Linked DNA regions of Homo sapiens. The protein of the gene in region 2 interacts with the protein of the main gene of each other region in a biochemical or structural test. Each region holds a gene or a part of one and is shown on either strand. Other genes may lie near its edges.

Region 1 (3,735 bases), about 45 Mb from region 2:
TAGTTTTAAAAGGATCCTGGCAGGGCGCGGTGGTTCATGCCTGTAATCCCAGCACTTTGGGAGGCCGAGGCGGGCGGATCACGAGGTCTGGAGACCATCCTGGCTAACACGGTGAAACCCCGTCTCTACTAAAAATACAAAAAAAATTAGCTGGGTGTGGTGGCGGGCGCCTGTAGTCCCAGCTGCTCTGGAGGCTGAGGCAGGGGAATGGCGTGAACCCGAGAGGCGGAGCTTGCCGTGAGCTGAGATCGCGCCACTGTGCTCCAGCCAGGGCAACAGAGCGAGACTCCGTCTCAAAAAAAAAAAAAAAGGATCTTAAGTATTTTGTCTGACTCTGCCATTTAGTTTATTCCTTTGTTTACCTGCCCAATGGAACTGTTTGCTTGTAACTACACATTAATATAACTAAATTTTGAACTTAATGTTACATGCCTTGCTATACATGGGGCTCTTTGGGGACATGCTCATTTGTGGGATTAAAATTTCCAAGACGGTTTGAAGTTTGTAATTACTATAAAATCCCTCATCTTTAATCTGTGGAGCTGTAGTATTAAGTGAAGGCCTTGGTATGTTCATAATTACGATAGTCATGTGACTGAAAATCAGGCACTGAAGCTGCTCGTTCTGGGTGTTGGTCTCAGTTTATTGATGCTTCATCCAAATACATTTTTATAGCTAATAATAAAGAAAAACATCAAATACTCTTGCTAAATTGCAATCAGTATGCAGTTTATGCCAAACTTAGCTTGATTTTATTTTTTGAAGAGGATGAGTATGTATATTTAAGCATATGTGTGTGTGTGTATATGTATATATACTTGTGTATACGTATATACGTGTATACGTATATATATGTGTACATATACGTGTATACGTATATATATGTGTACATATACGTGTGTGTATGTGTGTGTGTATATATATATATTTTTTTTTTTTTCTCTTTTGAGACTGAGTCTCACTCTGTCGTCCGGGCCAGAGTGCAGTAGCGCCATCTCGGCTCACTGCAACCGCCGCCTCCTAGTTCAAGTGATTCTTGTGCCTCGGCCTCTGGAGTAGTTGGGAGTACCAGCATGCGCCACTGTGCTCAGCTAATTTTTGTATTTTTAGTAGAGACGGGGTTTCACCATGTTGGTCAGGCTGTTCTCGAACTCCTGGCCTTGTGATCTGCCCCCCTTGGCCTCTGAAAGTGTTGAGATTGCAGGTGAGAGCCACTATGTCTGGCCATATTTAAGCATATTTATGATAGTATCTTAAATTTAAGTGAAGGGAAAGAGGAAAACATACACAGCCAATGAAGTAAGTTTGAAGTGGAGTGAAAGGAAAAGTTGGAGGTAAAAAGAGGTTAGAGAGGTGGGCAGGGGCCAAATCATATAGGGCCTTTAGGACATGGGAAATTCTTTGGATTTGTTCTGAGATTAGAAGTCATTTAGATATTCTTTAGAAAGGGAATGACATGATCTGATATTAAAAAAAAAACTAGAATCACTGTGAGTAGGAGTAGATCTAATTCCATTCTGACTAAATAGTAAACTAATATGATAATTTGGACAAATATAAAAAGGAATTCCTGGCTGGGAGCAGTGGCTGATGCCTGTAATCCCAGCACTTTGGAAGTGCTGGGCAGGTGGATCACTTGAGGTCAGGAGTTTGAGACCAGCCTGGCCACATGGTGAAACCCTGTCTCTACTAAAAATACAAAACATTAGCTGGGCGTGGCAGCAGGCGCCTATAATCCCGGCTATTCAGGAGGCTGAGATAGGAGAATCACTTTAACCTGGGAGGCGGAGGTTGCTGTGAGCAGAGATCGAGCCATTGCACTCCAGCCTGGGAGACGGTGCAAGACTCAAAAAAAAAAAAAAAAAAAAAAAAACGGAAAGGATTTCATAATATTAATTTCCTTGACTTAGTGACTTCTGCCTATTTTATTTGAAGTCATTGGTTCTTCTCTTCTCTTCTCTTGAGACAGGGTCTCACTGTCACCCAGGCTGGAGTGCAGTGAGTGATCTTTGTTCACTTCAACCTTTGTTTCCCAGGTTCAAGCGATTCTCGTGCCTCAGTCTCTAGAGTAGCTGGGACTACAGGTGTGTGTGTGTGACCATGCCCGACTAATTTTTGTATTTTTAGTAAAGACGGGATCTCACCATGTTGGCCAGGATGGCCTTGATCTCTTGACCTCGTGACCCCGTGACCCACCCACCTTGGCCTCCCAAGGTGTTGGGATTACAAGCATGAGCCACTAAGGATTTGTTTTTAAAATTTTTTTGCTTTATTTTTTTCTTCTCTTTTTTTGTACTAGAGATGGTGTCTTGCTATGTTGCCCAGACAGATCTTGTACTCCTGGGCTCAAGTTGTCCTCCTGCCTCAGCCTCCCAAAGTGCTGGGATTAAAGATGTGAGTCAAGCGATTCTCGTGCCTCAACCTACCCACTAGCTCGATTACAGGTGCCATCCACCACCTGCCCACCACCCTTGGCTAATTTTTGTATTTTGTATTTTAGTAGAGACAAGAATTTTACCATGTCGGCCAGGCTGGTCTCAAATTCCTGACCTCAGGCAATCCACCCGCCTCAGCTTCCTGCTGGGATTACGGGCGTGAGCTACCCTGGCCAAGATTTTTAATTTCTGAAGCTTATAGCTGCTCTAAAGCACAAGGATTCAGTCCCATGATTTAAAAAAGTTGCTTGTTTTGACTTCAAGTATATGGTTGAGCATTCTAACTTTTGTTATGTATACATTTTTATTTTACTGTATTCTTCTAGCCATTGTATCCTAGTCTGTATGTTGCAGATGAGTTGTGATTCTCTGGTGTCTCTTCCATGGACCTAGAGATCATATGCTCTACTACTGGGATTTTTTTTTGTAACTTTGTTTGGGATATAGGCTTTGAGAGGTTAAGGAAGTAAATTTAAGATGGATATTTAATGTTGTAACACTTTGTTAATGCTTTTTTCTACAAGATAATTTTATTATGTGATATGGCAGCTTTGTTGGAAATACCTGTTTTTTTGTGTGTGTGGAAAATTTCTTTTCTGGATGAAATCTCTTGTTTAACTTTTCCAGTTATTCATAATGAAGCTCTGTTTATCTTTTGAAGATCTTAAGTTCAGAAACAGAAGGCAGGCTGCGTATGGTGGCTCATGCCAGTTATCCCAGCACTTTGGGAGGCCGAGGTGGGTGGGTCACCTGAGGTCAGGAGTTCGAAACCAGTCTGACCAACATGGTGAAACCCCATCTCTACTAAAAATACAAAAATCAGCCGAGTGTATTAGTGAGTGCCTGTAATCCCAGCTACTCGGAAGGCTGAAGCAGGAGAATCCCTCGAACTTGAGAGGCGCAGGTTGCAGTGAGCCAAGATTGCTGCACTCCAGCCCGGGCAACAGAGCGAAACTCCGTCTCAAACATACACACAAAAAAAAGAAGGAAAGAAAAGGCAGTAGAGTATCTTATTTAAGAGCATGGATTCTGGAGAGAAACTGACAGTTAAATACTAGCTCTGACACTTGATGGCTTGAGACCCTTGGCAGTAGTATGTCTCCTTTGTAATTCAGTTTTTTTCTTCTGTAGAAAGGGAATGGTAAGGAAGCGCCATGAGATTTCAGTGAGAGAGAAGCACTTACCTCAAGTGCCAGACATGTAGCCCTTCAACTAACTTATTTTATTTATTTATTTTTTGAGATGGAGTTTTGCTCTTGTTGCCCAGGCTGGAGTGCAATGGCGTGATCCCAGCTCACTG
Region 2 (3,735 bases):
GCTAATTATAAGAACTATGTGCATATGGTGTTTATACCAAATTTTATACTTGGAGGTATAAGAGTTCCATAATTATAATAATGTCTTAAGTCAAAATTGACCAGTGCGGTTTTTTTTTAAAGGGGTTCATACATTAATATTAGGAACAATGAAAGACCAGATTTTGCTTTCTTTGTTGCATAGCCTGTAAGGAGCTCAGGGATAAAATTGTAGCCCAGCAGCAGCAGCAGGACATGATCTTACTAACTTCACTCTGTTTTGAGCCCCTCTCTCTTTCTATTCTTCTTTTGATTGCATTTCCTCACTATGTAAAAATAATCTTGTAATGTAGGTATTTTGAGAAATCTCCTTAAATCCTTTCTGTCCTAGGTGGGACACACACACACACACACACACACACACACACACTTTCTCTCTCTCTCTCTCTCACTCTCTCTCTCCTCCCAATCAAGCCAACCAAGTTAACTCTGACTTGAGTACTAACAGTTCCAAAGATAGCACCAAAACAACCTAAGCCCAGAGACTAAATATTTACTAACATAATAAAGGGAAGGCCTCTGAGAGCTCTGGAAGAGCAGCCTTCCCTACAAAACAGTAACTGAAAATATACTTTCCTTCCTCCAAAGATGCCTTCTGCTTGTTCTTCAATGTGTTCAAAGTCAAGAGCACCTGAAAAGTTAGAACATACCACTTCAGATGCAGGAAGGTCTGCAAACATGCTGCTGGTGAACTCATCCATAAGTTTTGCAGGGTAAAGCTGTTGAGTTAACCCCAAATCTCCCAGAACATTATATTGCAAAGCTATGCAGAGTGACTAACCCAGATGACATTAACCACATATTCCACATTCCTGCCCCTTCCTCCCTCACTGCATGGTCCCCTGGTAAAGGACAGCAATGATCTCACTCATGGAAGCTTGGGCTTGGTAGATGGGATTATTTCTACTCCTACCATCTCCCGTCACCACTAGTTCCTGGGCAGGGAAAAACTTCCAAAGTGAGTAAAAGCTGCTAGTGGTCAAGAAGTCTCCTGGAGAGTTTTTTGTTACTGTTTTTATTTTGGTATTTTTGCGGGGGAGGTGGGTAGCCACAATGCTGGAAACCTCAACTGTCTCATCACTAAGACACTCCCAGATGGAAGGAAACAAGATCCAACCCAGAAGGAATCTGGGCTCTATCAATTATTCACTTGCTCAAAAAGAGTAACTGCCAGGATGATGCCCTGGTGCAATAATCCTCAAAACCATTTTCACCCTTTTTCTAGAAGATACTGTTTGCTCTCCCCATTTTCCTTAGAGCCAGGTCCCATTCTATGGCTGAAATTCCATTCTGAATCACTAACCTGGTACATTACTTGGCCCTTCTTGGCTGCTGTTTCCGGAGGATGTTTCTGAAGTCTGGGAATTGCTTTCATCAAACTCTCGCTTAAATATACACAGGAGGCAGGAGATCCTATAATCCAACCTCACATTCAAAATAAACTAAAGATTCAAGTGGAAATGGAAACAGATTGGTTACATTAACATACCATCTTGACTCTGCCAAGCCACCACACACTGGCGGGGCCTGGTATCAGCTGCATCAATTACCTTAAGCACTAAGTGAGCCAAGTATTTGGCTTAGATTTCAACAGTCATTTTAACAACAGCAGACTTCCATGGGGCATATGAAGTCTGCCCATAGCACCTTAGCCTCTAGTGTAAGCTTCAGCATCCTGGCAATTAATTTAACAATTGGAACACTAAATCACTCACTCCTGGCTCCATAAATGGAGTCTATAAAACAAGACTCCATTTCAGTAAGTATTGAATGTCAACTCTGGGCCTAACACTGAAAAGAGTGAAGTTGCCTGCTTTGGATTTAAGAGAATTAACAAAAAAAAATTTGTTTTTTACTATGGAAAATTAGCTTGGTTCCTATTTCCTGTTTCTGGTTGTTTCCCCTGGTTTGGGTACAAACCCTTGGACACCCTCTTCTTTTGCCTCCTGTATTCCCTCACCCTTTATTCCAACACAGGGTCACTTTTCCCAGGATTGCTGCTAGAACCAAAAAGAAAGATTGAGCAGCTGACATCATGTAGGGATCTCACTCACGTTCTTCCTTCCGTTCTCCCCTTGTCTCTGCTTAGCCTCCCAGCAACCTTTCCCAGTCCAGTGGCCATCACCTCTTCCAGAGGGAGATAGGTCTCTGGCCTGCCTCCATGCTCTCAGTGTATGTGTCCTACAGACTGTTGGACATCCTATTTGCTATCTTCCCAGGGCCTCAAACTCAGTGTTTCACAAAAGTAACTGCGATGGTTAATTTTATATGCCAACTTGACTGGGTTCAAGGACACCTAGACAGCTTGTACAACTTTATTTCCGGGTAAATCTATGAGGGGGTTTCCAGAATGGACTGGCATTTGAATCAGTGAGCTGAGTAAAGAAGATCCGCTCTCACCCAGTGTGAGTGGGCACCATCCAATCCACGGAGGGCCTGGATAGAGCAAACAGGTGGAGGAAGACCGAATCCACCTGTTCTGGAGCTGGGACACTCATCTTCTCCTGCCCATCAGAGCTCCAGGTTCTCCGGCTTTTGGCCTCAGACTGAGAGTTACACCTTCAGCTCCCCTGGTTCTCAGCCTTGGGACTCAGGCTGAATCACACCACTGGCTTTCCCGGGACACAGCTTGCTGTGGCAGACTGGGGGACTTCTCGGCCTCCGTAACTGCGTGAGGCCAATTCCCATAATAAACCCCCTCTTGTCTATCTGTATGTATCCTATTTGTTCTGTTTCTCTGGAGAGCGCTAACACACTAACATTGTCAGTCTTGCCTTCATCTACTTTCTGCCTGGGTTTCCTCAACCTCAGTCAGTTGCCTGATCATCAGCGCCTCCTTCCTGGACACACATCTAATCAGAGACTAAGTCCTGGTGGTTCTCCATTTACCGCTTCTCATAGAGTTCTCCCCTACTGCCGTTTCTCCCTGCTCAAGGCCTCATTATCTCCTGCCTGTTCCATTTACAGAACCAAATTCACCAAATCAGCCTCCTAACCACTTGTTCTTATGTTAAGCTCCCGCTTGAAGACTTTCAAAGGCTCAACAGAGAATAAGCCTTAGCATTTTAGACACCCAAAGCTCTGTGCAGTGTGGCTTGGTCCTCCTTTCCAAACTCACTTCTGACAACTTCCCCTCAGCACACTCTATGTCTCTGCTCAGCAAGAACTGCCCACTGACCTGCATCCCATGGTACTCGGCTTCAGGCTGCTCCATCCACCTGAGAACGGGCCCTTGTTTCTCCATGTACAAAGCCCATGCACCTTAAAGGCTCAGATGAAACCCTACCTCCTCCATCAACCCTTCTCTGATCTTTACCATGTGGAGTCACATGACCCCACTCCCGGACTCCAGTCTCAGAAGAACTTTCTGGTGGTTTTATTTCCACATCCACGCAGCTTCATCATACCTTATTCTCCCATCAGACTATAAACCCCTGTGGATGGAGCCCCTGTTCGAATCATTTTTGCATTCCTCACAGTGCACATGGTAGGGAGTCAATAAGTACCCGTGGAAAGAATGACTCAATCGACCAATCCTTCTTAGGTCACCACGGTGAGTGGACCTCAAGATGTGACCAAGTTTTGCACTGCGTCGTTTCTGATAAACGTCCAAGACACCACTTTGGAACACATGGACCATGGCCTGCAAATTTTATATGTATATTTTGTCTCGACAAAAAAAATTGAAAATAAAAGT

The links.
Region 1: the proteins of ITPR1 (region 2) and RHOA form a complex in vitro, tested with the Homo sapiens proteins (one study listed by BioGRID).

Annotation. Positions count from the first base shown.
Region 1 is NC_000003.12:49,405,371-49,409,105, reverse strand, and holds part of RHOA (transforming protein RhoA isoform 1 precursor), read left to right. Parts: intron 1-2,299; exon of another isoform or gene 2,300-2,394; intron 2,395-3,735. UniProt on the Homo sapiens protein: Small GTPase which cycles between an active GTP-bound and an inactive GDP-bound state.
Region 2 is NC_000003.12:4,678,298-4,682,032, reverse strand, and holds part of ITPR1 (inositol 1,4,5-trisphosphate-gated calcium channel ITPR1), read right to left. Parts: intron 1,481-3,735; coding exon 1,342-1,480; intron 670-1,341; coding exon 615-669; intron 1-614. UniProt on the Homo sapiens protein: Inositol 1,4,5-trisphosphate-gated calcium channel that, upon inositol 1,4,5-trisphosphate binding, mediates calcium release from the endoplasmic reticulum (ER).